Linked DNA regions of Homo sapiens. The protein of the gene in region 1 interacts with the protein of each later gene in a biochemical or structural test. Each region holds a gene or a part of one and is shown in the gene's direction. Other genes may lie near its edges.

Region 1 (4,438 bases):
GATGTAAGGAAAGAGGCAGTGTTAAACACTGTTAAGAGGACAGTTTATCAGTATTTTTTACTAAACTTTAATAAAACTTTTCTATTTGAATTTCTGCTATGAATTTTTCTTCAGCATTTGTCCTCAGTACAGGTGGTTCCTTGAAACATTGTTTCTAATAAAACTAGAACATCCTGATATTTTATCCATTCTATAGAGATCATTGATGGTACACAGACATACAGTGGATTATGTTTGTTGAGTGAATGGAAAGAGAGATTGTTAGGTTTACAACGATGCAGCTCTTGAGACCGGAGTTTAAGATCAGCCTGGGCAACATAGTGAAACCCCATCTTTAGCTGGGCATGGAGATGGATGCCTATAGTCCTAGCTACTGGGGAGACGGGGGCAGGAGGATTGCTTGAACCCAGGAGTTAACAGACTGCACTCAGTGACAGAGCCAGACTCCAACACAAAAAAAAAAAAAAAAAAAAAGCAAATTACCAGTGAGTAGTGTGTTACTTGGGTTTTTAATAGGCATCTTATTAACATGTTCCAACTTGAGCCCTTAACTTTCTCCACCTACCCCCTTCCACAAACCTGTTTTCACTGTCTTCTCTGTCTTAGTTAATGTCAGCTTTGTCTGTCCAGCTGCTCAGGCTAAAACTTTTCTTTCATATAACACATCCTATCAGCAGCTCCTGTTTGTGGGTAGGCATTTTGCCTTTTTTTTTTTTTTTTTTTTTAAACTGCTATATCTCTAGCATGTAGAACAGTGCCTGGCAGCACATAATAGGTGCTTAATATAATATTTGTTGAAAGAACAAGTCAGTGAGTATTTTTAATGTGAGGTGCAAAGAGAAAAAAAAATGTATCTTTGAGGTGTGGAGTTTTGAAGAACTTCCATTTTCTAAGCATTTGTGTAATGTTGGAGTTACTTGTTCCTTTTGTAATCTGAAAGTATGCTTTAAAAAAAATTAGTGTACTTTTGAGAATTTTCATTTTGCTTTCTATTCTTCCTTGCTTTGTGCATGTTTATCTAGACTGCTGATCTTGGACTTGATATTGGTGCCCAGGGAGAACCCCTTGGATATCGCCAGGATGGTATGTGTCTCATATTTCTCGATTAACTCCAGATCAAGCTAAAGTTCTAAAACTTTTATCAGAAGAGCCGGTTTGCTCATCTGGGAAACCAGTGTTGGCAGAAAAGTAGTGGCTTCAATTAAAAGCAGTTCTTAAATTCCAGTCAGCAACAGTATCTTTAATGGAGCACAGGGAATTCAGAGCCACACAATGAGTAGCAGTAGGATTACACCACCAACAAATACATGCTACTGCTAGGCCTCTGCAGTGCAGGATGTTACAATTTACCTGGCTTTTTATTCTCTTTTTGGCCAGAGGACTCATAATACCTTTGTCTACAAGCTACCCAAGGAAGATAGGAAAACTCCTGTTTCTAGGCTCAGATCTCGGGTGGGTTTTTACATAGTTGCATTATCATCAGGGTTTTCTTGAAAAGCTAATTTAAATCTGGGTAATGAACATGGAGGATGGCATAGACCACTAACAATTATAACTGTCTTACATTTATAACCGCATCTGCTTCTACCTAATTATGAAACCACTAAAGCGCAGATTCTTACTGTGAGAAATAACATGTCAACCCTAAGATAAAATATGTTGAGGTTTCATGGAAATAGTGCCTTTCCTTAGTACTTTTGTGGGTGTCACTTGGCCTTTTTGTCAAGATAGATTACACCTGCCAGACCTCATTATTGTCTTAATCCTCCTTCCCATGACTTCTCACTGCCTAGGTGGTCACACAGTAGATTCCTGCTTCTTCTCCTCGGGAACCCCAAGTCTCTTGACAGGGGTAAATGCAGAGTGTTCAGGGTTAGACTAATGATGTGACTAGGCCCTGCTGGTGTGCCTGTCTGATGGAAATAGATGTTATTTGTGTAGTCTCATGGGTGGCCTGGCACTGAGTAATTACTTGGCTAAAGAAAGCTGGAGGTTGAAGAGGCTAGAAAGCGTTGTTTTCTGACAAGTTTGCTGCTGAACTTTGGATGCCCTAACCTCAGTGTTAACGTCTATGTCTGCTTCTCTCCTCTCTCTTTTGCCTTCCTTCTTGCCTATTTTGTTGACACCCTGACTCTTCTAGATCCTAGCTATCGTTCTTTTCACTCTGGTGGATATGGCCAGGATGCCTTGGGTATGGACCCCATGATGGAACATGAGATGGGTGGCCACCACCCTGGTGCTGACTATCCAGTTGATGGGCTGCCAGATCTGGGGCATGCCCAGGACCTCATGGATGGGCTGCCTCCAGGTGACAGCAATCAGCTGGCCTGGTTTGATACTGACCTGTAAATCATCCTTTAGGTAAGAAGTTTTAAAAAGCCAGTTTGGGTAAAATACTTTTACTCTGCCTACAGAACTTCAGAAAGACTTGGTTGGTAGGGTGGGAGTGGTTTAGGCTATTTGTAAATCTGCCACAAAAACAGGTATATACTTTGAAAGGAGATGTCTTGGAACATTGGAATGTTCTCAGATTTCTGGTTGTTATGTGATCATGTGTGGAAGTTATTAACTTTAATGTTTTTTGCCACAGCTTTTGCAACTTAATACTCAAATGAGTAACATTTGCTGTTTTAAACATTAATAGCAGCCTTTCTCTCTTTATACAGCTGTATTGTCTGAACTTGCATTGTGATTGGCCTGTAGAGTTGCTGAGAGGGCTCGAGGGGTGGGCTGGTATCTCAGAAAGTGCCTGACACACTAACCAAGCTGAGTTTCCTATGGGAACAATTGAAGTAAACTTTTTGTTCTGGTCCTTTTTGGTCGAGGAGTAACAATACAAATGGATTTTGGGAGTGACTCAAGAAGTGAAGAATGCACAAGAATGGATCACAAGATGGAATTTATCAAACCCTAGCCTTGCTTGTTAAATTTTTTTTTTTTTTTTTTTAAGAATATCTGTAATGGTACTGACTTTGCTTGCTTTGAAGTAGCTCTTTTTTTTTTTTTTTTTTTTTTTTTGCAGTAACTGTTTTTTAAGTCTCTCGTAGTGTTAAGTTATAGTGAATACTGCTACAGCAATTTCTAATTTTTAAGAATTGAGTAATGGTGTAGAACACTAATTCATAATCACTCTAATTAATTGTAATCTGAATAAAGTGTAACAATTGTGTAGCCTTTTTGTATAAAATAGACAAATAGAAAATGGTCCAATTAGTTTCCTTTTTAATATGCTTAAAATAAGCAGGTGGATCTATTTCATGTTTTTGATCAAAAACTATTTGGGATATGTATGGGTAGGGTAAATCAGTAAGAGGTGTTATTTGGAACCTTGTTTTGGACAGTTTACCAGTTGCCTTTTATCCCAAAGTTGTTGTAACCTGCTGTGATACGATGCTTCAAGAGAAAATGCGGTTATAAAAAATGGTTCAGAATTAAACTTTTAATTCATTCGATTGTGTCACTCTTTCTTTTTTTCTTGTCATTAATAAATGGTTTGTGAGGGTGGTAAGTAAGTTTATCCAACTCAACTTTATCCTGAACTTTATCCTGAGATAGATAGATACATAGTGAAGTAATTTGTTGTAGCGATAGAGAGGGCCCTACTTCTCTAGATGCAATTTGCCAAGTTTCTTTAGCATTTGGCCCTGGATTACGCTGGACCCCTAAAAAAGTGTTTCAGCCTTGCACATTGTGATTAGTTCTGGGCTTTGGTGGGAGAAAGCCAAGCAGACTATCCATCTATCTATCTCTACCCCAATCCCCCTCAGATGATTTGATTCCATTAAAGTAATGAAATAAATAGTAACTACCCCTACCTGGATTTGGATTTGAATCACCTTCACCCAAGTGTGACTCATTGGGAGAGGGGAATTCCTTCAACTGGACTTTGAACTAATAATAATTAAATAAATTAAATAGGTTTAAGTGTTGATGTTTATCTGAACATAATCAGAACCAGAATGAGCCTTCCACAGTACCTGCCAGATGATCCTATCATCCCGGTGGTAGGTCTGACAAGCTTAGTTCATCTCATCTCTTCAGGTAGACCTGTTTGTTAAGACTTGTGTTTTGGTCTTTTAAAAAGTAAAAGAAAGAAGTGTTTTGTCTTTAGGGAGAGCTCTTTCTGATTTACTGTTTTTATTTTGATGATGATTGATAGTGACTATTAATTATGAGAAAAACATACATTCAGTTCTTTTTCGTTAAAAATCAGCTTCATCTGGGGAGGCCTTTTTGTGAATGCCCTTGCTTTGCAAAAATGAATTCATTGTGGTCTAAAATGTAATTAGGGTTTGAAAAGAAACATTCACATAGCTGATGATGTGGTAGGTCTCAGGTTCTGTCTCATGTGTGATAAACCAAACCAGCCAGTATTTCAAGAAGCCTAGGGCTATTGGTAGGTTAACACCGTGAAGATCTTCAGTGAATTCAGCTTTTA
Region 2 (4,499 bases), on another chromosome or scaffold:
TAACTTTTATTGGAGGCACATCACCTCTTAAAACTTTTAAGTTTCAAACTTGTAACTTTTGATTTTTGAGTTGTCACTTGGGTATTTTATAAATGTGAAAGAAAATTATTTCTTGATATTATGGTTTTTGTCTAGAACTGGTTGAAATAAGCCCGAAATTCTAGCACCTAAAACTTTTTTAAAAAAAGTGATTTAGGCTTGCAAATTTCGTGATGTAAATATATCCACCAAGAGCGTTCTAATGTCAGCTTTAAAGGAAAGAAAACTGGAATCCAATGGGATGACATGCTAAAGTGTTACAAATCAAATTATTACTTAAATCTCAACCTCTGAATTGCTGTTTAATACTCAGATATTCTCCTAAAAAATTTCCAGGTTGATTCAAATAACTTAGGTTAAACTCAACTTTTACGTGTTGGGATGGGGAAGAGAAGACTTATTTGTAGCCTTCACACCTTTATGTTCCTGTTTCAGTATTTGCATTTGATCCATTGAAATTTTTATTTCATTTGGTATGGTTAGGGTAAAACAAATCATTTGAGAAATGACATTTTGTTCTCCCTCTCCCTCCAAAAAAAAAAGATTATGAAAGCCACTTGTAAACTTTTTTTGTAAAAATGACCAAAAGACTGGAAAAGTTAATGTTAGGCAAATCCTGGAAATATCTTTTGGAGCTGTTTCTGATCATCTTGAGTGATGGAAATGATGAGGGTCATCTGTTGTCTTCATTACTCAGTGAACACGTTTTGTCACTGCTTGGTAAACGCTTAATGCCGTATGCACTTAAAAAGCACCTGGAAAGATAGGATTTTAGGATCTGGCATATAATTAAGTAGGGTAAAGATCCTTCTGGTCTTGGTACAGTTTTGTGGCCCTGGGTTTTGTGCTTTTTTGTTTTTTGAGTTTTTCCCCCATTTCAAAGACACAGGGCAGATAGTGTGTAAAGTATACCTGCTTTTTGACCAGTAGATTAATGTACACAGTGGAGAAGTGGTAAGGCTTTTTAAAATGTCAGCTCTACTTTTTTTTTTTTTTTTTTTTTTTGAGACAGAGGTTTGCTCTCGTTGCCCAGGCTGGAGTGCAGTAGCTCGATCTTGGCTCACTGCAATCTCAACCTCCCAGGTTCAAGCGATTCTCTGCTTCACCCTCCTCAGTAGCTGGGATTGCAGGTGTCCACAACCATGCCCAGCTAAGTTTTGTATTTTTTAGTGGAGACAGTATTTCACCATTTTGGCCAGGCTGGTCTCGAACTCCTGACCTCAGGTGATCCACCCGCCTCAGCCTCCCAAAGTGCTGGGAATACAGGCGTGAGCCACCATGCCCGGCTGTCAGCTCTATTTTCTTAAAATGCCATTGTGTTAGTGGTTCGTCATCCTAACCAAAACATTTTGATCAAGACCATTTATTTTCCAGCTCTGTAACTTGTGATATGCTATGTTTTATTTTATTTTGGCTTGAATGTTTACATAAGAGTTTGCTTCTGGAGTCTTGCAGATATAGCTCCTGATTTAGTGAGGCATTTCTCTCCTCAGTATTAAATTGCAAAACATTTTACTAAAGTGCTTTAAGTTTTTCTGGCAATTATTCTCAAGGCCTTGTAAGTTCATTTATAGGACTTCAAGAAGGTTGTCTCTGGTTGATAGTGAGATAAAGTGACTTTTAAGTTGTAAATCTTGAATGCGTTACAATATGGGGGTCTTATTCCAGCAGGAGTTCATCTTCTATAGCAGAGGTTGGAATTGTATTGGCATGTCCAGTGAATGGATAATAGGGAGGAGGGAGGAAAGGGTTTCTGCCTTGGTGGCCTTTTGGCATTATTTTGTGTTTTTCTTTGCTTTTCTCTCTCTTCTTTATTTAATAAAAACAAAAAAATGGAAACAGTTGAAAATTAATGCAAAGTGGTATTTGTAGGGACATTAAGTGGTAAATAGGAAAGAGAAAAAGAGTAGGAAGAGTGTTGCAGATACAAGTGGGAGTGTAAAATACTTTTTCCTGGTATATTTACAAAAACAATTTGAGAGTTATTCTGCCAATTCATATACCCAGCAATTAATGGAAAAGTAAAAGATGCTAGTTTTATGTTTGTCCAGATTTTAGGGTTTCCTTCTTTGAAGATTTCTAAAGTTGAATATTTTTTTAAGTGAGGCAAGCAGTAAAATTAATGGGCAAATGAAACCAATTATACCAAGTCTAAAATTTTTCTTTTTTTTTTGAGGCAGAGTCTCGCTTTGTAGCTGGGACTACAGGCGCCTGCCACCATGCCCAGCTAATTTTTTGTATTTTTAGTAGAGACGGGGTTTCACCATGTTGGCCATGATGGTCTCGATCTCCTGACCTTGTGAACCTCCCATCTCTGCCTCCCAAAGTGCTGGGATTACAGGCGTGAGCCACCGCGCCCAGCTAAAAATTTTTTTTTTTTTTAATACTTTTAAGTTTTAGGATACATGTGCACAACGTGCAGGTTTGTCACATATGTATACATGTGCCATGTTGGTGTGCTGCACCCATTAACTCGTCATTTAGCATTAGGTATATCTCCTAATGCTATCCCTCTCCCCTCCCTGCTAAAAAATTTTTTAACATTGAACTTCGCAGGTGATTTTTTTTCGCTTAATAGACGGTAGTTTCATTTTGAAATTTTCATGGGAAATTACTGCTCACTTTCCCAGAAGCGCTTAAGAGGATAAATAATAATTGAGGTGTTAAGCCTCTTCTGAGCAATTTGGATATAATTTGTTTTTAGATCTAGATTCTTTTTTATAAATGTCCCAAAGCAATTAGAAGTGATTGTTTTTTTTGAGACGGAGTCTCGCTCTGTCGCCCAGGCTGGAGTGCAGTGGCGCGATCTCGGGTCACTGCAAGCTCCGCCTCCCGGGTTCAAGCCATTCTCCTGCCTCAGCCTCCCGAGTAGCTGGGACTACAGGCGCCCGCCACCACACCCGGCTAATTTTTTGTATTTTTAGTAGAGACGGGGTTTCACCGTGTTAGCAAGGATGGTCTCCATACACTGACCTCGTGATCCGCCCACCTCAGCCTCCCAAAGTGCTGGGATTACAGGCGTGAGCCATAGCACCTGGCCCTAGAAGTAATTTTGTTGAGAGAGAGAGAGTAAAACTAAAAGTACTGAAAAGAGTAAGAGAGTAGCTAAGAGAATGAGTATTGGAGTCAGACTGCTAGAGTTCATAGCCCAGGCTTGTATTTATTAACTGTGAACTTTGGGCCAAATACTTAACCTGGCTCAACCTCCTCACATTTATTCCTAACCACAGCCCTGTAAGGTGGGTGCGCACCTTATAGGAATCCACCTTACTTACCCACCTTACAGGATTGTGGTTAGGAATAAATGAGAATTCTCTTTATCAGATGCTTAGGACTATGCTTGCTTCTGTGTAGTATGTGTTCATTGTTAACTGTTTTTAACTTTACTGCTAAATATATCAGAAGGAAAGCAGTGGTAGATGGTTTGGGGGTTGTTTTTGTTTTTTTGATTTGCAACGAAGTCTTGCTCTGTTGCCCAAGCTGGAGTACAGTGGCGTGATCTCGGCCTATGACAACCTCCGTCTCCCGGCTTCAAGCGATTCTCCTGCTCAGCCTCCGGAGTAGCTAGGACTACAGCTGCGCAGCACCATGCCCGGCTAATTTTTGTATTTTTAGTAGAGACAGGGAGTCCTGACCTCGTGATCCACCCACCTCGGCCTCCCAAAATGTTGGGATTACAGGCATGAGCCACCGCGCCCGGCCTGTTTTTGTTTTTCGTGGATATACAGTAGTCCCCCCTTATCCTTGCGGGATACATTCCAAGATCTCCAGTGGATACCTGAAACCCTGTATAGTAGTGAATATAATTGTCATCAGTCAGAACACGTTTCTGTCCGTGTCTTCCACACACAAATTTAATGCCTTTTCCATCTTAACTAATCACTTGTCATGCACTGTGGCTGTGATGTTTGCAGTTTGAGGTACAACAGCAAAACTATCACGAATTTTTTTCCTTCACAATTTCATGTATAGATTTGATCTTTGTAACCTCCGCATACAATTTTTTTTCATTCCTTATTAAGTCAAGAACTTTCACCTTCAAGCAATTTACAGCTTCTCTTTGGCATATCCATATAGCTGTCATTGCTACTTTTGGACTTAGGGACTGTCATTAAGTAAAATAAGGGTTACTTAAAACTCAAGCATTGCCCTGCCCCATAGTCAGTCTGACAATCTGATAACTGAGATGGCTACTAAGTGACAAATGGCTGGTAGTTTATACAGGTGAATACATTAGACGGAGGGGAGATTCACTACCCGGTCAGGTGAGATTTCATCAGGCTACTCAGAATGGCGCACAGTTTAAAACATTGTTGTGGCTCACGCCTGTAATCCTGGCACTTTGGGAGATTGAGGCAGGAGGATTGCTTGAGGCCAGGCATTCAAGACCAGCCTGGGCAATGTAGTGGGACCCCCCATCCCCCCACCATCTCTAGAAAAAAAATTTAAAAAGTCAGCAA
Region 3 (4,499 bases), on another chromosome or scaffold:
TGCAGTGGCTTATGCCTGTAATCCCAGCACTTTGGGAGGTCAGGAATTCAAGACCAGCCTGGCCAACATGGCGAAACACCATCTCTGCTAAAAGTACAAACATTAGTTGGGTGTGGTGGCAGGCGCCTGTAATCCCAGCTACTCAGGAGGCTGAGGCAGGAGAATTGCTTGAACCCAGGAAGCAGAGGTTGCAGTCAGCTGAGATCACATCACTGCCCTCCAGCCTGGGCGACAGAGTAAGACTTGATCTCAAAATAAATAAATAAATAAATAAATAATTGGATTTCATTATAATTAAGAACTTCTGGCTGGGAGCTGTGGCTCACACCTGTAATCTCAGCACTTTGGGAGGCCGAGGCAGGTGGATCACGAGGTCAAGAGATTGAGACCATCCTGGCCAACATGGTGAAACCCCGTCTCTACTAAAAATACACAAATTAGCTGGATGTGGTGGTGCGTGCCTATAGTCCTAGCTACCTGGGAGGCTGAAGCAGGAGAATCGCTTGAACCCGGGAGGCGGAGGTTGCATTAAGAAAGCAAAAAGAGGCCGGACGCGGTGGCCCACACCTGTAATCCCAGCACTTTGGGAGGCTGAGGTGGGTGGATCACCTGAGGTTGGGAGTTCGAGACCAGCCTGACCAACATAGAGAAACCCTGTCTCTACTAAAAATACAAAAATTAGCCGGGCGTGGTGGCGCATGCCTGTAATCTCAGCTACTTGGGAAGCTGAGGCAGGAGAATCACTTGAACCCGGGAGGTGGAGGTTGCGGTGTGCTGAGATGGCGCCATTGCACTTCAGCCTGGGCCACAAGAGCGAAACTCTGTCTCCAAAAAAAAAAAAAAAAAAGGAAAAAAAAAGAAAGCAAAAAGAGGTCGGGCGCAGTGGCTCATGACTGTAATTCCAGCACTTTAGGAGGCGGAGGTGGGTGGATCACTTGAGGTCAGGAGTTCGAGACCAGCCTGGCCAACATGGCAAAACCCCATCTCTACTAAAAACACAAAAATTAGCTGGGTTTAGTGGCAGGTGTGTGTAATCCCAGCTACTTGGGAGGTTGAGACAGGAGAATCTCTTGAACCTGGGAGGCAGAGGTTGCAGTGAGCCAAGATAGCACCACTGCACTCCAGCCTGGGTGACAGAGCGAGACTGTGTTTCAAAAAAAAAAAAGAAGGAGAAAGCAAAAAGAAAAAAGTGGGAGAAGATATTTTCAGTACTGTACATATATACAGTAGTGAAACTTGTATCCAGCGTATATAAATACCCTTACAAACCCTTACAAAATGAACATGATAGACAGCTCAATTTTAAAAAATGGCAAAAGAGGGCTGGGCGCGGTGGCTCATGCCTATAATCCTAGCACTTTGGGAGGCTGTGGCGGGCAGATTGCTTGAGGTCAGGAGTTCGAGACAAGCCTGGCCAGCATAGCGAAACCCTGTCTCTATTAAAAATACAAAAATTAGCTGGGCATGGTGGTGTGTTCCTGTAATCCCAGTTACTCGGGAGGCTGAGGCAGGAGAATCACTTGAACCTGGGAGGCAGAGGTTGCAGTGAGCTGAGATTGTGCCACTGCACTCCAGCCCGATGACAGAGGGAGACTCCATCTCAAAAAAAAAAAAAAAAAGCAAAATACATGAATAAGCATGCCACAAAAAAATCCATATATGTCCAAGGAGTATGTTAAATGATGCTCAACTTAATTAGTTATTTGGGAAAAGCAAATTAAACAATGCAACACCATTACATACCTGCCAGAATGGAAAAGATGAAAAAGAAAGTGCCAGATATTGACAAGGATCTCTTGCAAACTACAGATAGGAGTCTAAATTGGTACAATGACTTTGGAAAACCATTTGGCAGAATCTGTTAAAGCTAAATATATGAATGCTCTGTGACTCTATAGTTATACCCCTAAGTATGGAACCAGAAAAGTGTACATATGCATGTAGATATACATGCTCAAGTCTTATGTTCTTAGCAGTAGTTTTTTTTTTTCTTGAGACAGGGTCTTGCTCTGTTGCCCAGACTGAAGTGTGCAGTGGTGATCACAGCTCACTGCAGCCTCAAACTCCTGGGCTGAAGCAATCCTTCCACCTCAGCCTCCTGAGTAGCTAGGACTACAAGGGTACACCACCACGCCTGGCTGATTTTTCAATTTTTTGTAGAGATGAGGTCTCATTATGTTGCCTAGGCTGGTCTTGAACTCCTGGCATCAAGTGATCCTCCTGTCTTGGCCTCCCAAAGTGCTAGGATTACTGGCATAAGCCACCATGCCTGGCCTAGCAGCACTATTTTTGGTGGTCAAAAACTGGAAACAGGCCGGGTGTGGTGGTTCATACCTGTAATTCCAGCATTTTGGGAGGCTGAGGCAGGCAGATCACGTGAGCCCAAGAGTTCAAGACCAGACTAGGCAACATGACGAAACTCCCATCTCTATTAAAAATGCAGAAAATTAGCCAGCATGGTGGTGCGTGCCTATAGTCCCAGCTACCCATGAGGCTGAGATGGGAGGATCACCTGAGCCTGGGAGGTTGAGGCTACAGTGAACAGAGATGGTACCACTGCACTCCAACCTGGGGGACCAGAACGAGACCCTGTCTCAAGAAACACAAAACAAAACTGCAAACAGCTCAAATGTCCATCTTCTGTAGACAAGTAAATTTTGCTGTGTTTATACAATAGAATATTATCCAGCAATGCAAATGAACAAACTATAACTACACACAGCTGCATGGATAAATGTCAGAAACATGACGTTGAGTGTGAGAAGCCAGATGCAAACGAGGACTCACTGTGCAATTCTGTGCATGTACAGTGGCCAGGTGAGGCTTATGGAGTGCTGAAATGCTCTGTATCCCAATCTGGAGGGTGGTTTTAAAAAAATGTTTTGAGCCAGTGCGTTGGTTCACACCTGTAATTCCAGCACTTTGGGAGGCCAAGGTGGGCAGGTCACTTGAGGTCAGGAGTTCGAGACCAGCCTGGCCAACATGGTAAAACCCTGTCTCTACTAAAAATACAAAAATTAGCTGGGCATGGTGGCACACACCTGTAATCCCAGCTATTTACAAGGCTGAGGCACAGAGCAGGGCTCTGTCTCAAAAAAAAAAATCATAAATAAAAAATAAAATTTAAAAAATACTTGATTTTAATTTTTTTAGAGATGGGGGTCTCGCTGTGTCACTCAGGCTGGTCTTGAACTCTTGGGCTCAAGCAATCCTCTCACCTTGGCCTCCCAAAGTGCTGGGATTTCAGGTATAAACCACCACGCCTGGCCCTGGAGGGTGGTTATACTTGTGTAGTAAAAACTCATGAAACCTTACACTTATGATTTGTGGTAGACTTTTCTGTATTAATGTTATATATATATATATTTTTTTTTCTTTTTTAACCTTTTTTTGGTAGAGACGGGCCCTGCTAAGTTGCCCAGGCTGGTCTTGAACTCCTGTGCTCAAGTAATCCTCCCTCCCTGGCCTCCCAAAGTGCTAGGATTACAGGTGTGAGCCACTGCTCCCAGCCTAAATAAAAAGTTTGCTTCTCCCCTCCTTTTCTCCCCAAAAACCAGGGTGTTATCAGGAAATCTACTTAACTAGGCCTAGGTGAATTGCAATAGGTTGCATTATGCTAAAAGCAAATGTACAGGTTGGGGGGGTGTTGTTGTCAGCTCCGCCATGTCGTGGACCTGCCCCCTTTTCAGGACACCTCACGTCACCTTCCATAACAGAACAGGTAACGTGACATATGAGGTGCACTGTTGACAAGTGACACTGGTGACAAGTGAGGAGCACTGTTATCAATCTGGAAAGGAAATATAAGCATAGCTTTACTCATTTATTTATTTATTTTTTTAATTTATTTTTGAGACAGAGTCTTGCTCTGTCACCCAGGCTGGAGTGCAGTGGCGCAATCTCGGCTCACTGCAACCTCTGCCTCCTGGGTTCAAGCAATTTTCCTGCCTCAGCCTCCCAACTAGCTGGGATTACAGGCACCCGCCACTATGCCCAGCTAATTTTTTGTATTTTTAGTAGAGACAGGGTTTCACCACGTTGGCCAGGCTGGTCTCAAACTCCTGACCTCTTGATTTGCCCGCCTCGGCCTCCCAAAGTGCTGGGATTACAGATATGAGCCACCGTGCCCAGCCATTTCTTTCTTTATTTTTTTTTTTTTAGAGACAGGGTAATGCTCTTTGACTCAGGCTGGAGTGCAGTGGCATGATCATAGCTCACTGGAGGCTCAGACTCATAGGTTCAAGTGATCCTCCCACCTAAGCCTACTGAATAGCTGAGACTACAGGCACGCACCACCATACCTGGCTAATTTTTGTATTTTTTGTAGAGACAGAGTTTTGCCATGTTGGCCAGGCTGGTCTTAAACTCCTGGGCTCAAGTGATCTGCCTACCTCAGCCTCCTGAGTCACTGAGACTGTAGTTGTGTGCCACCATGCCAGGCTAACTTTTTTTTTTTGAGACATGGTCTCTCATTCTGTAGCCTAGACTGGAGAGCAGCA
Region 4 (4,499 bases), on another chromosome or scaffold:
TCCACCACATTCTGTTTGTTACAGTGAGTCACTAAGTACAGCCTACATTCAAGGGGAGGAGAGTTAAGCTCTTAAAAAGAGAAGTAGACATATTTTAAAACTTCCACAGGTAGTGTGCTAAGTACTTTACAGATCATTCTTCCAGTTATCACAGCAATCTTATATTTAGGTATTATTTTGCAAATGAGGAAGTTGAAGCTTATAGAATCACATAGCTGGTGGTTGGTAAAGTGTGGATTTGAAATAAATACTTTCTGACTCTAATATCTGTGCTTAATTCCATTTTGATTCTCAAACTTGGTTATGTGGCAGAATCACCAGGAAAGCTTAATAGTATAAATTATCAGGTCCTACATGTACATGGAAATTCTGTTTGCTTCTTTTTCTTTTTTTCTTTTTTTTTTTAAAAGAGATGTGGTCTTGCTATGTTACCCAGGCTTGACTTGAACTCCTGGGCTCAAGCAGTCCTCCCACCTCAGCCTCTGGAGTAGCTGGGACTATAGGCATGCGCCACCACACCCGGCTAATTTTTAATTTTTTGTAGAGATGAGGTCTCACTGTGTTACCCATGCTGATCTCGAACTCCTGGCCTCAAGCAATCCTCCCACCTCAGCCTCCCAAATTGTTGGGATTACAGTTACAACTACACCCAGCCTAGAACGCCAGATTTGACTTACTCACTGTGTGATCTTGTTACTTAGCCAATTTGTGCTTCAATTTTCTCCTGTGTGGTGAAAGTATTAATAAATCTACCTATAATAGGATTATTGTGACAAGTAACTGAGTTAATATATTTAAAATGTTTACTGCTTGGCACTTAGAAATGTAATAGTAGTAATAGTGATGGTATTTTTATGTGTGTTTTCTTTTAAAAAATTACTAATTTTTAATTATACAAATCAGAAATTAGAATATTATAAATAATACTGATCTTTCCCCCTCTGTTCATCCACCCACAATTAAGTAGCATTTCAAATCCAGTCCCTTTTTATTGGAAATAATTTTTTTTATTGTAATGTTTTTCTTTCTTATTAGGTTGAACCATGCCAATGTTGTAAAGGCCTGTGATGTTCCTGAAGAATTGAATATTTTGATTCATGATGTGCCTCTTCTAGCAATGGAATACTGTTCTGGAGGAGATCTCCGAAAGGTAGTGTGGATGTTTTGAGATGAGAGAGAGTAAATCACAAACTTTAGCAATGTTTGAATCATGTTAAATATAATAAACTAGAATAAGAATCGGAAAAACTATGGTCTGCTTCCTGTTTTGTAAATAAAGTTTTATTGGAACACAGCCACATTCATTTCTTTACACATTGTCTATGGCTGCTTTCTTATGGCTGCAGAAGTGAGTAGTTTTAACAGAGACTATGTGACTTGCAAAACCTAAAGTATTTACCATATGGTTCCTTACAGAAAATGTTGACTCCTGATTTAGAAAATGCATTTTTGTTGTTGCTGTTTGATGGGACTATAGCAATGGTGTTAGATGAAAATTTCAGTGGTTAAGGTGCTTATAAAAAGTTGTTTTCTGTATTGCAATCTTTTTTTTCTACCTAATTTTAAATGTGCCCATATGACCATTTTTATATATATCCATGAGATTTGTCAGCCTTTTCCAGTTTCAAATGCTTTTTGCCTCTTTTTACTTTTATGAGCCTTATCATGAAATTTACATGCCCTCAGTATGGATTTGGTAATTTTATTCCCTTGTATTTTATTATGACTTATTTTCTCATTTGAATATTCTTTTAGAGTATAGTAATTAATGTGTGGTCACTATTGCAGCCCAGCAATTTGCAGAACAGATTTTTAGATTTCTTTCTTTTTTTAGCTGCTCAACAAACCAGAAAATTGTTGTGGACTTAAAGAAAGCCAGATACTTTCTTTACTAAGTGATATAGGTACGTATCAGTATTAAAATACCATTGTAATGTAATGTCCCTTTGGCCCATAAAAGATCTTTTTGGGAATTCAGGAGAATTGTTGATACACTATACAAAGTCTATAGAATTTCAACATCTATAAGAAGTTATAAAAATCTATTACTATTGATGCTAAATTAAAACTAGGATATTTTGGCTAGGTGCGGTGGCTCACGCCTGTAATCCCAGCACTTTGGGAGGCCAAGGTAGGCGGATCACAAGGTCAGGAGTTCAAGACCAGCCTGGCCAACATAGTGAAACCCCATCTCTACTAAAAATACAAAAATTAGCTGGGCACAATGCCGCATGCCTGTAGTCCCAGCTACTCGGGAGGCTGAGGCAGGAGAATCGCTTGAACCCAGGAGATAGAGGTTGCAGTGAGCCGAGATTGCACCACTGCACTCCAGCTTGGACAACAGAGTGAGACTTTGTCACACACACACAAAAAGAAACTAGGATATTTTATTATTTATTTGTGGCTAAGAGTCCTTTTTTTGTCTAATAGATGTTCCAATAGCTGACAAAAAAATCATGTGAAATGACCTTACTCAATTTCTCTCCCCCCCTACCATTGACATAGTAATTTTGTTTACAGTGGAATTACATCTCCTTGAGGGATGGGTCCTCAAGTCAACTCTTTTTTGTTTGTTTGTTTTGAGACGGAGTCTAGCTCTGTTGCCCAGGCTGGAGTGCAGTGGTGCGATCTCAGCTTACTGTAACCTCTGCCTCCCAGGTTCAAGCGATTCTCCTGCCTCAGCCTCCCGAGTAGCTGGGATTACAGGTGCCCGCCATCACACCTGGCTAATTTTTGTATTTTTAACAGAGACGGGGTTTCACTGTGTTGGCCAGGCTGGTCTCAAACTCCTGACCTCGTGATCTGCCCGCCTCGGCCTCCCAAAGTGCTGGGATTACAAGCGTGAGCCACCGCACCCAGCCAAGTCAACTCTTCAGGGTGAAAAATCTCTGCTTAATCAGAATGACTCCAGAAAAATTCCTAAAATAACCAGTACCTAACCTTTTGGAGGAACCTCAAAAACCAAAAATTTGTTTCCCCATAGATTTTGGTTTTGCCTCTTTTCCAAGGTCATGAGGGCTAAAGTCCAATTGAAATGAGTGATTTAGGTGGGAGAAAGAGGCTTATAAGAGTTTCAGGGATTTTCCCAATTGCTTGTTGCATTTCTATTTGGTGTTAATTCTAATGAGTTAAATGAACATATAGTATAATTTTGTAGTATTTGTTTAATGTTACTTTTTTTTCTGTGAAGAAAACCTGGACACTGTAGTATTAGTTGTGTAGTTACGATGATCCATATAAACTTGAGCATCAGAGTAGATTTGTACAAAATGTGAGGTGAATTTTTCTTTTAACTCAATGATTTCTGTTACTTTAAAGTATATTTTAAACTTTATTTAGGGTCTGGGATTCGATATTTGCATGAAAACAAAATTATACATCGAGATCTAAAACCTGAAAACATAGTTCTTCAGGATGTTGGTGGAAAGGTAGGTGAAACCTGAAGTAATGTTTCATGCCTATTGAATATAGTCTCTCTGATATAGTTAGTCCTTGAGCTTTGGTGTCTTTGCTGTATGCCCATAACAGTCTTACTTTTTCCATTTCAGACCTCACCACACTGAACTGTAGTTTTGTGTTTAGTTTTTTTGTCCCTTCTGCTAAACAGTGGTTCCATCAGAGAAGGAACAGCACCTGCTTTTTTTTTCTTTTTCTTTTTTTTCATTTTTCATACTTAACCCAGCTCCTAGACTTCACCTGTCTTGTTCAAGTCTGTTTTTCCATCATAGTATCTAGCAAAGATACAGGCTGTGAATACATAATATGTTAACACTTATTATTTTATTCTTATGAAGCACATCCAAAACACATACATGCACATCCTGGGTCCACTTTAAGAAAAAAAAGAAAGTATATATATTTTTAAAACTTATTTTCCTTCCCCCAATTTAAATGAGTCATCTGGAGAAGAACCAGAAATTGTGAATTGACTCTTAAAATGTTCATTTCATTGGTAACTTAAGCAGTTTTCTTGTTTCCAGCATCCAAATTTCATTCCAATAAAGACTTAAAGGCCAAGAGTCTGAACCTTGTGTTGAGTTGTGTGTGCCGTCTCTTTAGTTAGTGAAAATAGTTGTTGGCCTCTTGGAGGTGTTGGAACCTTGGTGATGCCTCTTCTCTTAGGAACCTTTCACGTATGCTTGGCACCAAATATCTCTGCTTTTTTTTTTTTTAATCCAAAGACTTCAGGACATTCCTGAAGTTAGATCTAAGTATTTACTCACATTTAATCTACTATAAGGAGGTATGATGCTTCTTCAAGTTTGGAAGTCACCCTTGCCTTTACTTTCCAGTTTAATGGATTGAGCTTATTTTGAATATAGTAAAATAAAAATTAATAGCCCACCTGTATTCAATTTTTACCATGTACCAAGCACTGTGTTACCTTCTTTACTTTCGTTATTTCATTGGATCCTAATAACAATTCTGTGAAGCAGGGACTGTTAGTCATCCAATTAGATTACTGAGAGAGGTTAAATAACTTGGTAGATCACATGCCT
Region 5 (4,499 bases), on another chromosome or scaffold:
CATGAATGCAGGGCTCCGGAGCCCAGAAGGGCCCTTCCCAGTGCTCCTGACTGCTGCTCCACTCAACTCATTCTTTCTAGGCTCTTGGCAAGGACTGTGCCATGCCAGAGAGAGAGAGAGATTGTGTGTGTGTGTGTGTGTGTGTGTGTGTGTGTGTGTGTGTGTGTGTGTTGGGGAAGTACTGTTTGGTTTGGGTTTTTTGCACTGACATGAGAAAGAATGGGGTGCTGGGTAATCTTTTTCAGGGTTGAGAGACGCTATAATGAAGGAAAGCTCAGCATCCTTGAGTTGGGGTAGATGTTGCCCATGACTCTGTGTCAGGCAGATGGCTTTTATTCATTCATTCCCAGATACTTCTGGATGGCTGTTTCGTAGGGAGCATTGTGTGTGGATGTCGTAAGTGATGGAAATGGATGGGGCAGGATGGCCATCTGGGAGCCTCTGCCTCCTTGGTCAGCCCTGCGTGTCCATGACTACAGCATAGGGAGGGGACTTGAGCCTCACTAGTAGGTTCTTTGAATATGTTGATTGGTTGTGCTGGAATGGATCGGTTCTCTCCACCACTTAAAGTTCAGCTTAGTTGTCATTCGTGTCCCCCCCCCCAAAATGACATAGGGCGTGGTGAGGCTGGTAGTGATTGTAAATATATGCTCGCTCCTGTTATAATCGTTTGGAAATTGACCCAGTACAGGGCATGTGGCATGAAAATGCAGGCCACCCCAATGGCCTGCCCCGGTGCCCTAACAGCAGAGCCCAGCAAACTTTGAGTACTTGTGAGGCCTCATCTCACCAACAGCTTTTTCTTTTCTGTTCCCTGTGCAGTACCTGCAGATGAAATGGCCCCTCCTCGATGTCCCCTCCAGCGCCACAGTCAAGGACACGAGGTCACCATCTCCAGCACACTTGGTAAGTCTGTTTCACCTTAAAGCACCAAAGGGCCACTATTAGTGGCCTCATCCCATGCCACTGCCTTCTGCCATCACGCTGAAGCAGATGGGGTCCAACAGTGTTTCCTCAAATGTGTGAGTACAGTGAGGAAGAGCTGAGTGCTTGGGGCTAACAATTGGGTTGTGACCTCAACACACACACCACACCGCCTCAGATGTTTTGTAATTGGAATAGCCGTCCCCCAACCCCCATGGCCCTGGCTGCTCACCCTGGTTCATCACAGAAGCCTGCCTGCGATCCTTCCCGGCTGCCATCTGAACCCGCTGCCCACTTCACGTGGGCAAGGGTGGCTTCTCTGTCCTGTTGAGGCTTACCCAGAATTGCCTCCTCTTCTCCCTCATAGCTGCCAGGCAATAGTTGAAGAGGCTCTTCTGTTTTTGTTTTTGTTTTTGTTTTTGTTTGTTTTTTGAGACGGAGTCTCGCTCTTTTGCCCAGGCTGGAGTGCAGTGGCACAATCTTGGCTCACTGCAACCTCTGCCTCCCAGGTTCAAGCGATTCTCCTGCCTCAGCCTCCCAAGTAGCTGGGACTACAGGCATGTGCCACCACGCCTGGCTAATTTTTGGTATTTTTAGTAGAGACGGTGTTTCACTGTGTTAGCCAGGATGGTCTCGATCTCCTGACCTCGTGATCCGCCAGCCTTGGCCTCCCAAAGTGCTGAGATTACAGGCATGAGCCACCGCGCCCGGCCGAAGAGGCTCTTCTGTACAGGATGTTATAGGAAAGAATTCAATAGGACGTATGCAAACAAATGCTCCTCAGGGCAGCCGAGCCTCTTCTGCCAGGCCCTGTGGCAATACCAGCTGGAAAGGAGGGTCTGGACAATCCTGGGAGACAGGAGCAGTGGATCCAAGCAGTACCTCTGGCCTCCTCAGGACATGCAAAGGACTGAAACCCAAAGCTGATAAGAGATGCTCCTGGAACAGAACCAGATATCCTACTTTCCTGGGCTTTTCCTGGGTGCTTGGGTCAACACTTGCCTTAAGATGCACTCACCCCACAAGCTAACTGGTGCTCGCCGACTGTACAGTGAGCCTCAGAATCAGGGAATGCGGTTAGAAGGGACCCTCATCCTGCATGACCTATGCATTTTACAGACGAGCAGACATAGGACTTCACTGTTACTGCCCTGTACTAGGTATTAGGCGTTGGGCTTCTATGATGTTTATTAAAGTTTAATTACAGAAAATTTTAAAGATGTATCAAAGTAGAGAGAATTACATAATGAATCCCCATGTTCCCTTCACCCAGAATTTCCCTCCTGCTACATAGGGGATTTAAAGTGAATCCCAGACATTACTTCATCTCATAGGACATTTTAAGAGATACTGATAGCTGGGCGCAGTGGCTCACGCCTGTAATCCCAGCACTTTGGGAGGCCGAGGTGGGCGGATCACGAGGTCAGGAGATCGATACCATCCTGGCTAACACGGTGAAACACCGTCTCTACTAAAAATACAAAAAATTAGCCAGGCGTGGTGGCGGGCGCCTGTAGTCCCAGCTACTAGGGAGGCTGAGGCAGGAGAATGGTGTGAACCCCGGAGGCGGAGCTGATAGTGAGCCGAGATCGCGCCACTGCACTCCAGCCTGGGTGACAGAGCGAGACTCTGTCTCAAAAAAAAAAAACTGATAATTCTTATTCATTAAAAGCTTAGAGTCTAGCAGAAGAGAAAGAAGATATGTGCAGAAAGCTAAATAAATAAGGGTGCAGGGAGCCTGTATGATTTCCAGTAATCAGGAGACCTGCTCCTGTGGAGCCCTTGGGAGTTTACAGTGGGATCTACAGTGGGATGCCACATGCAGCTCTCAGGTGATTGTCACAGCCATCACCAGGGAGTCAGGCAAGGATGACAGTGGAAGGAACCGTGAGTGCGGGACCAGCCATCCGGGAAAGGCAGCAGGTTCTGCAGCCAGTCGCCAAGGCACAAGCTGCTGTTGAACAAGCACTCCACACCTCAGGCATAAGCCAGGGTAGTGGCTTTGGCCCAGAGTCCCACTTGGGATAGCCAAGCACGAGGCGCGGGTGCCCTCTAGTGGTGCCAGTCAGCCCTGGTGGAGGATGTGCGGACCACATCTGCCCACCCTAGACCTGGCTCGTGCCCTGCACCTCCCCCCAGTGCAGCCATCTCTGTTTCAGATCTGTGCCTTCCTCTACCTCTCCTGTGCCGTCTGCCAGCCCACTCCTGAAGACCTGAGATGGCTGGGTCCTCTGTCTTAGTTTCTCTCTGCATATTGTCGCATCTCCATCTACTTTTCAAGAATGTTATTTCCCTTTAAAAACTAACACATGAGGCCGGGCGTGGTGGCTCACGCCTGTAATCCCAGCACTTTGGGAAGCTGAGGCAGGCAGATAACCTCAGGTCGAGAGTTCGAGACCAGCCTGACCAATGTGGAGAAATCCTGTCTCTACTAAAAATACAAAATTAGCCAGGCATGGTGGCGCATACCTGTAATCTCAACTACTCAGGAGGCTGAGGCAGGAGAATCGCCTGAACCCGGGAGGCAGAGGTTGCAGTGAGCCGAGATTGTGCCATTGAACCCCAGCCTGGGCAGCAAGAGCAAAACTCCATCTCAAAAAAAAAAAAAAAAAAATCGGCGTGGTGGTACGCGCCTGTAATCCCAGCTATTTGTGAGGCTGAGGCAGGAGAATTGCTTGAACCCAGGAGGTGGAAGTTGCAGTGAGCTGAGATTGCACCACTGCACTCCAGCCTGGGCAACAGAGCAAGACTCTGTGACTCAAAAAACAAACAAACAAAAAAAAAAACTAACATATAGTGGCCAGGTATGGTGGCTCATGCCTTTAATCTCAACACTTTGGGAGGCCAAGGAGGGAGGATTGCTTGAGGCCAGGAGTTTGAGACCAGTCTGGGCAACATGGTGAGATCTCTACAAAAAAGACGGAGTTTTGCTCTTGTTGCTCAGGCTGGAGTGCAATGGCGCGATCTTGGCTCACCACAACCTCTGCCTCCTGGGTTCAAGCGATTCTCCTGCCTCAGCCTTCCAAGTAGCTGGGATTACAGGCATGTGCCACTATGCCCGGCTACCTTTGTATTTTTAATAGAGACAGGGTTTCTCCACGTTGGTCAGACTGGTCTCAAACTCCCAACCTCAGGTGATCCACCCTCCTCGGCCTCCCAAAGTGCTGGGATTACAGGCGTGAGCCACTGCGCCTGGCCAAAATTTTTAAAATTAGCCAGATGCAGTCATTCACACCTATAGTCCCATTTACTCAGGAGGCTGAGCTGGGAGTTCGGAGCTGCAGTGAGCCATGATTGTGCCACTGCACTCTAGCCTGGGTGACAGAGTGAGACCCTGTCGTGAACAAAAAAACAAAACTAACACGTGTACTCTGAGTTTCCCATTCTTCCTTTTGCACAGAGCAATCCTCTGAGAAATGAAAGAAAAACCCTGTGTTCAGCCTTCCTGTTCCTGTGAGCACCGTCCTGTTTCTTTTTTATTGTTTACCGCCTGACTTCCCACACCTCTGTCACCTCCTTTATTCTGCCACTCCACTGCAGCCCGGCTTAGCGCTTCAGTCACCATCGAATAACTA
Region 6 (4,499 bases), on another chromosome or scaffold:
TTATAAACTTCATAAAGTTCTTAAATTTGGTAAACCTTAGCTCTAGCTTTTGATGTATCTAGAAATGTTAAACCTTAGCTATAAAGCATACTTGCATTATATGCAGAAATACTTGTAAGAAAAAACATAGATTAAGCAGTTCCAGTAAGATAACTGAAGTGATGGCAGTAGAAGTATCAAAAAGGAGTATTTTACCAGGAGGTTATGGTGCTTTTCTCCCTGGAACATGAGAAAATGTGCCTAAAATGGAACTTCAGAGTTATATTCTGATTAACTTATAGCTTGTTGCTCTTGGTTCCAAGGAAGGGCATTTGTGACATTTTATTAAATTCATTAATTTTTTAGACACACCATTGTCAGCTTGAACAAATTTATTAATTGTAATTATTTGTCAGCTGTTCTTGATCCTGTTAATACCATACTTATAACTAAAAGCATTTCCATGGATGTTGTAACTTGGCCTGTAAAAAAAATGTTTAGATAGAAACCATGAAACTCAAATATGAATTGTTTAATTTTCAAACCATTTTGCATTCAGAAAATGTCCTAAGCTTAATTCATACTCCTAGTGATCAAGGAAACATGTTAAAGCTCCTTATTTTTAAACTTAAAGTGACAATGACATTTTCAAAGATTTTAAAATTCTTATAAACAGGTTAAAATACTTATATACTGTATAATTTGATTTCTGATTTCTAAGCTCTACTTTTCTATTGGAAATTACAGATTTTTTTCAGACTTAATTCTTAAGATGTTTTCATTGTTTCACAGTAGCAACTAAACATGTAGTAAAATGATTTAAATTCAATTAAAATTTTTTTCCTTAGTCATTTAAAAGGGAAGAAATCAATTTTTAGTAGTACTCATTCCAAAGATTCCAATTTTCCTTTTTTTTAATCTTTTATTTTTTGGTGGAGGGAGGCAGGATCTGGCTCTGAGGCCCAGGCTGGAGTGTAGTGGTTCTGTCTCGGCTCACTGCAACCTCCACCTCCCAGGCTGAAGACTCAAACCATCCCCATGCATCACCCTCTCAAGTAGCTGAGACTATAGGCACATGCTACCACACCCAGCTTATTTTTTGTGTTTTTGTAGAGATGGGGTTTCTCCATCTTGCCCAGGCTGGTCTTGAACTCCTGAGCTCAAGTGATCTGCCTGCCTCAGCCTCCCCAAAGTGCTGGGATTACAGGTGTGAACTACCACACCGGGCCCCAATTTTCCAATGAGTGATATAAAAAAGGCCTCCACGCAGGCGCCTGTAGTCCCAACTACTCCGGAGGCTGAGGCCAGAGAATGGCATGAACCCGGGAGGCGGAGCTTGCACTAAGCTGAGTGCTGCTGCACTCCAGCTTGGGCGACAGAGCGAGACCGTCTCAAAAAAAAAAAAAAAAAAAAAAGCCTCCATGATTGGGGCTTGCATAGTGAAGACCATGTGAAATTGAAAGACTACGAAACTACTTTTCTTTTACGTATTGGCCCATAATTAACATGTGTATTGAATAGCTTTGTTTATCTAAGTTCATCAGATTTATCCAGGTTTATGTATTTCAGATCATCTGATTTTATTAGGAAAATGCTAGAAAAATTTCATGGCACCATTGTCTAATTTTGAAAAAACGAACCTTTCTTTACTGTGATTAAAAATTGTTTTTTAGGCCAGGTGTGGTGGCTCACGCCTGTAATCCCAGCACTTTGGGAGGCTGAGGCTGGCAGATCACGAGGTCAAGAGGTTGAGACCATCCTGGCAAACATGGTGAAACCCCTTCTCTACTAAAAATACAAAAATTAGCTGGCGTGGTGGTGCACACCTGTAGTCCTAGCTACTCAGGAGGCTGAGGCAGGAGAATTGTTTGAACCTAGGAGGCAGAGGTTGCAGTGAGCTGAGATCGTGCCACTCCAGCCCACCCTGGGTAACAGAGCGAGACTCCATCTCAAGGAAAAAAATGAAAAATTGTTTTCAAAAATAGTACGTGTGGTACAGATATAAGTAATTATATTTTTATAAATGAAACACTTTGGAAATGTAGCCATTTTTTGTTTTTTTATGTTTATTTTTCAGCTATGGGTGGATAAAGCATGAATATAACTTTTCTTATGTGTTAGTAGAAAATTAGAAAGCTTGAATTTAATTAACGTATTTTTCTACCCGATGCCACCAAATTACTTACTACTTTATTCCTTTGGCTTCATAAAATTACATATCACCATTCACCCCAATTTATAGCAGATATATGTGGACATTGTTTTCTCAAGTGCTAATATAATAGAAATCAATGTTGCATGCCTAATTACATATATTTTAAATGTTTTATATGCATAATTATTTTAAGTTTATATTTGTATTATTCATCAGTCCTTAATAAAATACAAAAGTAATGTATTTTTAAAAATCATTTCTTATAGGTATGTTCACATACGATGAATCTACAAAATTGTTTTGGTTTAATCCATCTTCTTTTGAAACTGAGGGTCAGTTTACTCTGATTGGCATAGTACTGGGTCTGGCTATTTACAATAACTGTATACTGGATGTACATTTTCCCATGGTTGTCTACAGGAAGCTAATGGGGAAAAAAGGAACTTTTCGTGACTTGGGAGACTCTCACCCAGTAAGTTCTTTGTCATTTTTTTAATTCAGTCTCTTAGATTTTATTTAAATGCAAAAATTTAATTTATGTCAAAATTTTAAAGTTTTTGTTTAGAATCTTTGTTGATACTCTTATCAATAAGATAAAAATGTTTTAATCTGACCGAAGTACCAGAAACACTTAAAAACTCAAAGGGGGACATTTTTATATATTGCTGTCAGCACGAAGCTTTTGTAAGATTGATTTCATAGAGAAGTGTTTCTAAACATTTTGTTTGTGTTTTAGTGAAATCTTAAGAGATAGGTAAAAATCAGAGTAGCCCTGGCTAAGGGTCTTGGTAGTTACAACGAGTGTGCCTGCTCCTACCACCCCCACCCCCACCTTGAGACACCACAGAATTTCTCATAGAGCACAGTGTGAATTCTATTGCTAAATTGGTGGTATGGGGTTTCTCAGCAGAGAATGGGACATCACAGTGACTGACAATCTTTCTTTTATAGGTTGGAAACTATTTGGGGGACTGGAGGGATACTGTCTACACTTTTTACAATTTTTATTGATAAGATTTTTGTTGTCTTCTAAGAAGAGTGATATAAATTATTTGTTGTATTTTGTAGTTCTATGGTGGCCTCAATTTACCATTTCTGGTTGCTAGGTTCTATATCAGAGTTTAAAAGATTTATTGGAGTATGAAGGGAATGTGGAAGATGACATGATGATCACTTTCCAGATATCACAGACAGATCTTTTTGGTAACCCAATGATGTATGATCTAAAGGAAAATGGTGATAAAATTCCAATTACAAATGAAAACAGGAAGGTAATAAATGTTTTTATGTCACATTTTGTCTCTTCATTAACACTTTCAAAGCATGTATGCTTATAATTTTTAAAGAAGTATCTAATATAGTCTGTACAAAAAAAAAACAAGTAACTAAGTTTATGTAAATGCTAGAGTCCACTTTTCTAAATCTTGGATATAAGTTGGTATGAAAGCACACAGTTGGGCACTAAAGCCCCTTTTAGAGAAAGAGGACATGAAGCAGGAGATAGTTAATAGCTAAGTGTGGTTGTAGTATAAAGCAAGAAGCAGGGTGTTTCTTGTATTAAGCTGTAAGCAGGAACCTCATGATTAAGGTCTTTATCACAGAACAAATAAAAATTACATTTAATTTACACATGTATATCCTGTTTGTGATAAAAATACATTTCTGAAAAGTATACTTTACGTCAGATTTGGGTTTCTATTGACTAAAATGTGTTCATCGGGAATGGGAATAACCCAGAACATAACAAGCAAAAAATTATGACAAATATATAGTATACCTTTAAGAAACATGTTTATATTGATATAATTTTTTGATTAAATATTATACACACTAAGGGTACAAAGCACATTTTCCTTTTATGATTTGATACAGTAGTTTATGTGTCAGTCAGTACTTCCACATTTTTGCTGAACTGGATACAGTAGGCAGCTTACCAAATATTCTATGGTAGAAAACTTGGGACTTCCTGGTTTGCTTAAATCAAATATATTGTACTCTCTTAAAACGGTTGGCATTTATAAATAGATGGATACATGGTTTAAATGTGTCTGTTTACATACCTAGTTGAGAGAACCTAAAGAATTTTCTGCGTCTCCAGCATTTATATTCAGTTCTGTTTAATACATTATCGAAATTGACATTTATAAGTATGACAGTTTTGTGTATATGGCCTTTTCATAGCTTAATATTGGCTGTAACAGAGAATTGTGAAATTGTAAGAAGTAGTTTTCTTTGTAGGTGTAAAATTGAATTTTTAAGAATATTCTTGACAGTTTTATGTATATGGCCTTTTCATAGCTTAATATTGGCTATAACAGAGAATTGTGAAATTGTTAAGAAGTAGGTGTAAAATTGAATTTTTAAG
Region 7 (4,478 bases), on another chromosome or scaffold:
CTTCTTGTCTGCAAGCCAGCTGATATGGTAGCAACCAAAGATTCCAGTGTTTGAGCATATGAAAGACTCTGCCTGCTTAATTGTGCTAGAAATAACAGCATCTAAAGTGAAGACTTAAGAAAAACTTAGTGACTACTAGATTATCCTTAGGACTCTGCATTAACTCTATAATGTTCTTGGTATTAAAAAAAAAGCATATTTGTCACAGAAATTTAGTTAACATCTTACAACTGAACATGTATGTATGTTGCTTAGATAAATGTAATCACTGTAAACATCTATATGATCTGGGATTTTGTTTTTATTTTGAAATGGGAGCTTTTTTGTTTACAAGTTCATTAAAAACTAAAAACTGTTTCTGTAAGGAAATGAGATTTTTTTTAAACAACAAAAAATGCCTTGCTGACTCACTATTAAATAAAAATCTCCCCAATTTTTTGATAGACTACTTCAAGCCATTTGTTACATGGTATTCCTTTGCAAGTCAATTTAGGTTTCGTGTTATAACTTTTCCTCTTTTTTTAAGAAAAATGAAAAAAGTAATTCTTTTGTCTGAAGGGGAAAGGCATTCTTTCATTTTTTTCTTTTTTTTTTTTTTTTTTTATGACTTGCAGGCACAATATCTAGTACTGCAACTGCCAGAACTTGGTATTGTAGCTGCTGCCCGCTGACTAGCAGCTGGACTGATTTTGAATAAAAATGAAAGCATTAAAGGGTTTCCCTACAAAACATTTTTCTTTAAAATACTTTTGAAATGGCTATAAGCAGTTGACTTTCACCCTTGGAGAGCATCACACTGTGTGAGGTTCAGTGATTGTTGACCCTCCCCAGCCCCTCCTGCTTCTTTAAGTTATCTGTGTGCGTGCGCTTCCTCTCAATCTTCTTTGCACGCTCATTTCTTTTTCTCTGACCCATGAGAAAGGAAAACTTACTGATGATAATTTTTAAATAGTGTAATTTATTCATTTATAGCATGTCAGGATAAATTAAAAGAACATTTGTCTGGAAATGCTGCCGGGAGCCTATTGTGTAAATGTAGGTATTTTGTAAAATAACCTTGAAATTGTAAATTGACACGTGTTTGGTCAGATTGTGTCAAGTTTAATTTGTTTTGTTTTCTTTTTTCTTTTTTTTATTTGAAAACTACTTTAGCAATAATTAATTCCATGATTATCACATTCTGCCATTAAGGGATATTAGTACCGTAATACTGAAGAAATTTTATTAAGTCTGAACTTCTGGGGTAGGCAGCTTCTTTGTTTCTTTTCTATCCACCCTTGTCGGTTGAGGTATTTGTTTCTTGACTAATAAACCCTTTGATACTTTTAGCCAGAAATCAGTCTCATAAAGCTATTTTTGAGTATAGTTTGTGTAAAATAAAAATGTTTAGCTTTGGTAATAACTTCCAAGCTGAACTCCCTCTAGCAAGATATTTTTCAGTGCTTTTATTTACTATGCACTTAGACTATGCACTTTTTCTGAAATATTTTTGTAACACTTTTTTGTATTTTTGCCATTTGAAAAGGTTGTGGTGTAGTTGGTCTGTAATTAAGTTGCAGATTTAAAACTGCTGTTAGCTTTGTAAATCAAAATATAGGTGTTTTTTGTCCTGGTATATCGTCATTCCATCTGCAGCTGGAGCTGGAATCCCATTGATCTTCTAGCTACCATTCATTTTCTTCACTGTTCACAAAAGAAGAGTGTGAAATTCAGTGAATGCTGTTACTAATCCTGTTACGAGATGAATCTCATTTCACCAAAATTAAATTATGTTTTTCCGCTAAAATGATGATACAAGTTGAAGACACATCACTCTGAAATTGGAAGACCTCACCACTTAAGGCTCCACAGTGGCTTACTCAGCTGAACTCTAGGTTACTACTCTTTACTTTGTTCACCCATTGGGGGGTGCAGTTTTTTTAAAATGTTGGGAGATGGCCATTCTAACTACTGTTGAATGTCTCTGTTTTGGGAAGGTATAACAAGAAATAAAAAAGAATATATATGAAGGGAGAGACTGGTTATCTCCTCCCATATGGTTGTGCTTATCCTCTTATGGCTTACAAATGAATATTTGGAGGTTTGCTTTCACAATGATTTCCCATCAACAAATATTTTTAGTAGGATTTTTCCTGTTTCTGTTAGTCCTTGCAGTACTCATAAATGTTTTAAGCTGAGCATACTGTAATAGTCATAAGTTTAATTTCATTATAATAAAAATAATCAAACAAAAGGACTTTAGAACCCAAGACAATGAGCTAGTTTTCCCTAAAGTTTGCTGAACTATTAAGGAATATGTTCTTATAGCTTTTGACTAGAATGAGTCATGGGAATTCTAAGAAGGGATGGCCTAGACATTTTTAGCTCAGTTAAATTCAGCATTTAATGCAGGTGAGTTCCTGGGTCGTTTTCCAACTAGTCTGGAACAGTCTGGTTCTGACTCAAACTGGTATAAAGCATTATTTTAGGTTTTCTCTTTGCCAGTTTTTAAGCAGTTATAACCATGTAAATCAAGATGTGAGGACATCTATATGAAGTATAGTAAAGAAGTGGTGTCAGCAGATCAATATGTGTGTCCTGGGTGTGCTGCTCTCTTAAGTGAGACTTTGTGAGACTATACTTTAAATGCATTATTACCATTGCTTACATTTTGGGGGATTTTCTTCCTCCTCAAAACTTCCATTTCTATTGTAATATTCTTAATGACAATCTTTTTTTTTTTTTAGCAGTGTATGTTTGAAACAGCCAAAGATGGCGATGAACCAAGTGTAAATTGATCTAAGCAGCCCATGCAGTTTGTGTTGAATCAACAAACAGTGTATTGTTGAAGTGAAATTATTTTCTGAAATGACTTGTTAGACCAGTTTTGAGGACATACTCAAAAGTAGAGTAATAATGGCTCCTGGGATGGAGAAATATGAGATGAACCTGGAACATTCTATTATGGTGCCACAAAGGAAATCTAAAAAAAAAAAAAAAAAAAAAAGTGGTTGGCTAGGAGCAGTGGCACACGCCTGTGATTCCAGCACTTTGGGAGGCCGAAGTGGGCAGGAGTTCAAGACCAGCCTGGCCAACATAGTGAAACCCTGTCTCTACTAAAAATACAAAAATTAGCCGGGTGTGGTGGCGGGCGCCTGTAATCCCAGCTTTTCAAGAGGCTGAGGCAGAAGAATCGCTTGAACCCGGGAGATGGAGGTTGCAGTGAGCTGAGATCGTGCCACTGCACTCCAGCCTGGGCGTTGCAGTGAGACTCCGTCTCAACAACAACAAAAAGGTGGATACATGTCAAAAGGGCACAGGAGCCACTTGAAGGATTATACTTGCTAAATCTGTGTCAATTATCAAAATAAACTGGTAGCAACGTTACAACTCACTGAATAAGATACCATGATTCCATGTTGACTTAAAAATGGAGAGAAGAGAAAGCTCTAACTTGAATGTCAGCTAATTTAAGGTGAAAGGATTTTATGTGTTAGAAAAATCACCATTTTGCAAACTAGTTTTCAGAATCCTTAATATATGTCATCTCTTTTATTCCTCATAACAGTAATAAGAAACAGTTAACTGTTTCAGAAAAGAGTGGGGCTGCCCAAGGCAAGGCATGTTGGTAATTGGTAAGCTTTATAGAGCCAAGACCTCAACCTGATTTTCTTGCTTTCATGCAGTTAAGCCATGGTGCTCCTCTTGTTATATCACCCTTTTAAACCCAGAGATTGATAGTATTAGCCATCATTTGCTGAGTGTCATGCACTATTCTAAGTGCTTTACATGTATTTGCCTAATCAGCGCCCTGTGAAGTACATCCTGTCTCCATTTTGCATATAAGGATACCAAAGCACAGAGTTGGAGGGAAGATAGTTATATTCCCTTACTTTATTTATTTATTTTTTTGAGACAGGGTCTCGCACTGTCGCCCAGGCTTGAGTGCTATAAGACCTTAAGTTTCCCCTTTCAAAGTAGTTTATAGTGTCTAAATATCTTACATAAAAGTATATATCAAATAGGGTGGCAGTCTGGAAAGATTTAAAATCCAGAATGACTGGAAGGTTGGGCAACTAAGATTTCTTAAATTGCAGCTGTTTTCAACATAGATGTGTTGTAGAGTCTTTTCGGTTTCAAAATTAAATTGACTATAAATGGAGTGTGCTTAATTCAGATCTAAAAATTTTGGAATTAGAATATTGGGTGCTTGGCTGAGTGCTGTGGCTCACGCCTGTAATTCCAGCACATTGGTAAGCCCAGGTGGGCGGATCACTTGAGGTCAGGAGTTTGAGACCAGCCTGGTTAACATGGTGAAACCCCATCTCTGCTAAAAATGCAAAATTAGCCGGGCATGGTAGTGCACGCCTGTAGTCCCAGCTACTTGGGAGGCTGAGGCAGAATTACTTGAACCCAGGAGGCAAAGGCTACAGTGAGCCGAGACTGAGCCACTGCACTCCAGCCTAGGCGACAGAGCGAGACTCTGTCTCAAAAAAAAA

Evidence for each region.
Region 2: the proteins of CTNNB1 (region 1) and EP300 form a complex in vitro, tested with the Homo sapiens proteins (3 studies listed by BioGRID, with this or other methods).
Region 3: the proteins of CTNNB1 (region 1) and CBY1 form a complex in vitro, tested with the Homo sapiens proteins (2 studies listed by BioGRID and IntAct).
Region 4: the proteins of CTNNB1 (region 1) and CHUK form a complex in vitro, tested with the Homo sapiens proteins (2 studies listed by BioGRID, with this or other methods).
Region 5: the proteins of CTNNB1 (region 1) and TCF7L1 are reported together in a solved structure, tested with the Homo sapiens proteins (2 studies listed by BioGRID, with this or other methods).
Region 6: of the proteins of CTNNB1 (region 1) and UBE3A, one has a biochemical effect on the other in vitro, tested with the Homo sapiens proteins (3 studies listed by BioGRID).
Region 7: of the proteins of CTNNB1 (region 1) and CSNK1A1, one has a biochemical effect on the other in vitro, tested with the Homo sapiens proteins (2 studies listed by BioGRID).

The regions. Positions count from the first base shown.
Region 1 is NC_000003.12:41,236,994-41,241,431, forward strand, and holds the end of CTNNB1 (catenin beta-1), read left to right. Parts: intron 1-1,022; coding exon 1,023-1,083; intron 1,084-2,140; coding exon 2,141-2,349; 3' UTR 2,350-2,666; coding exon of another isoform or gene 2,667-2,753; 3' UTR 2,754-3,450; downstream 3,451-4,438. UniProt on the Homo sapiens protein: Key downstream component of the canonical Wnt signaling pathway.
Region 2 is NC_000022.11:41,095,592-41,100,090, forward strand, and holds part of EP300 (histone acetyltransferase p300), read left to right. Parts: intron 1-4,499. UniProt on the Homo sapiens protein: Functions as a histone acetyltransferase and regulates transcription via chromatin remodeling. Acetylates all four core histones in nucleosomes. Histone acetylation gives an epigenetic tag for transcriptional activation.
Region 3 is NC_000022.11:38,662,869-38,667,367, forward strand, and holds part of CBY1 (protein chibby homolog 1), read left to right. Parts: intron 1-2,677; exon of another isoform or gene 2,678-2,817; intron 2,818-4,499. UniProt on the Homo sapiens protein: Inhibits the Wnt/Wingless pathway by binding to CTNNB1/beta-catenin and inhibiting beta-catenin-mediated transcriptional activation through competition with TCF/LEF transcription factors.
Region 4 is NC_000010.11:100,219,517-100,224,015, reverse strand, and holds part of CHUK (inhibitor of nuclear factor kappa-B kinase subunit alpha), read left to right. Parts: intron 1-1,035; coding exon 1,036-1,150; intron 1,151-1,834; coding exon 1,835-1,904; intron 1,905-3,339; coding exon 3,340-3,428; intron 3,429-4,499.
Region 5 is NC_000002.12:85,282,673-85,287,171, forward strand, and holds part of TCF7L1 (transcription factor 7-like 1), read left to right. Parts: intron 1-822; coding exon 823-906; intron 907-4,499. UniProt on the Homo sapiens protein: Participates in the Wnt signaling pathway. Binds to DNA and acts as a repressor in the absence of CTNNB1, and as an activator in its presence.
Region 6 is NC_000015.10:25,354,798-25,359,296, reverse strand, and holds part of UBE3A (ubiquitin-protein ligase E3A), read left to right. Parts: intron 1-2,400; coding exon 2,401-2,606; intron 2,607-3,240; coding exon 3,241-3,405; intron 3,406-4,499. UniProt on the Homo sapiens protein: E3 ubiquitin-protein ligase which accepts ubiquitin from an E2 ubiquitin-conjugating enzyme in the form of a thioester and transfers it to its substrates.
Region 7 is NC_000005.10:149,491,870-149,496,347, reverse strand, and holds the end of CSNK1A1 (casein kinase I isoform alpha), read left to right. Parts: 3' UTR 1-3,366; downstream 3,367-4,478.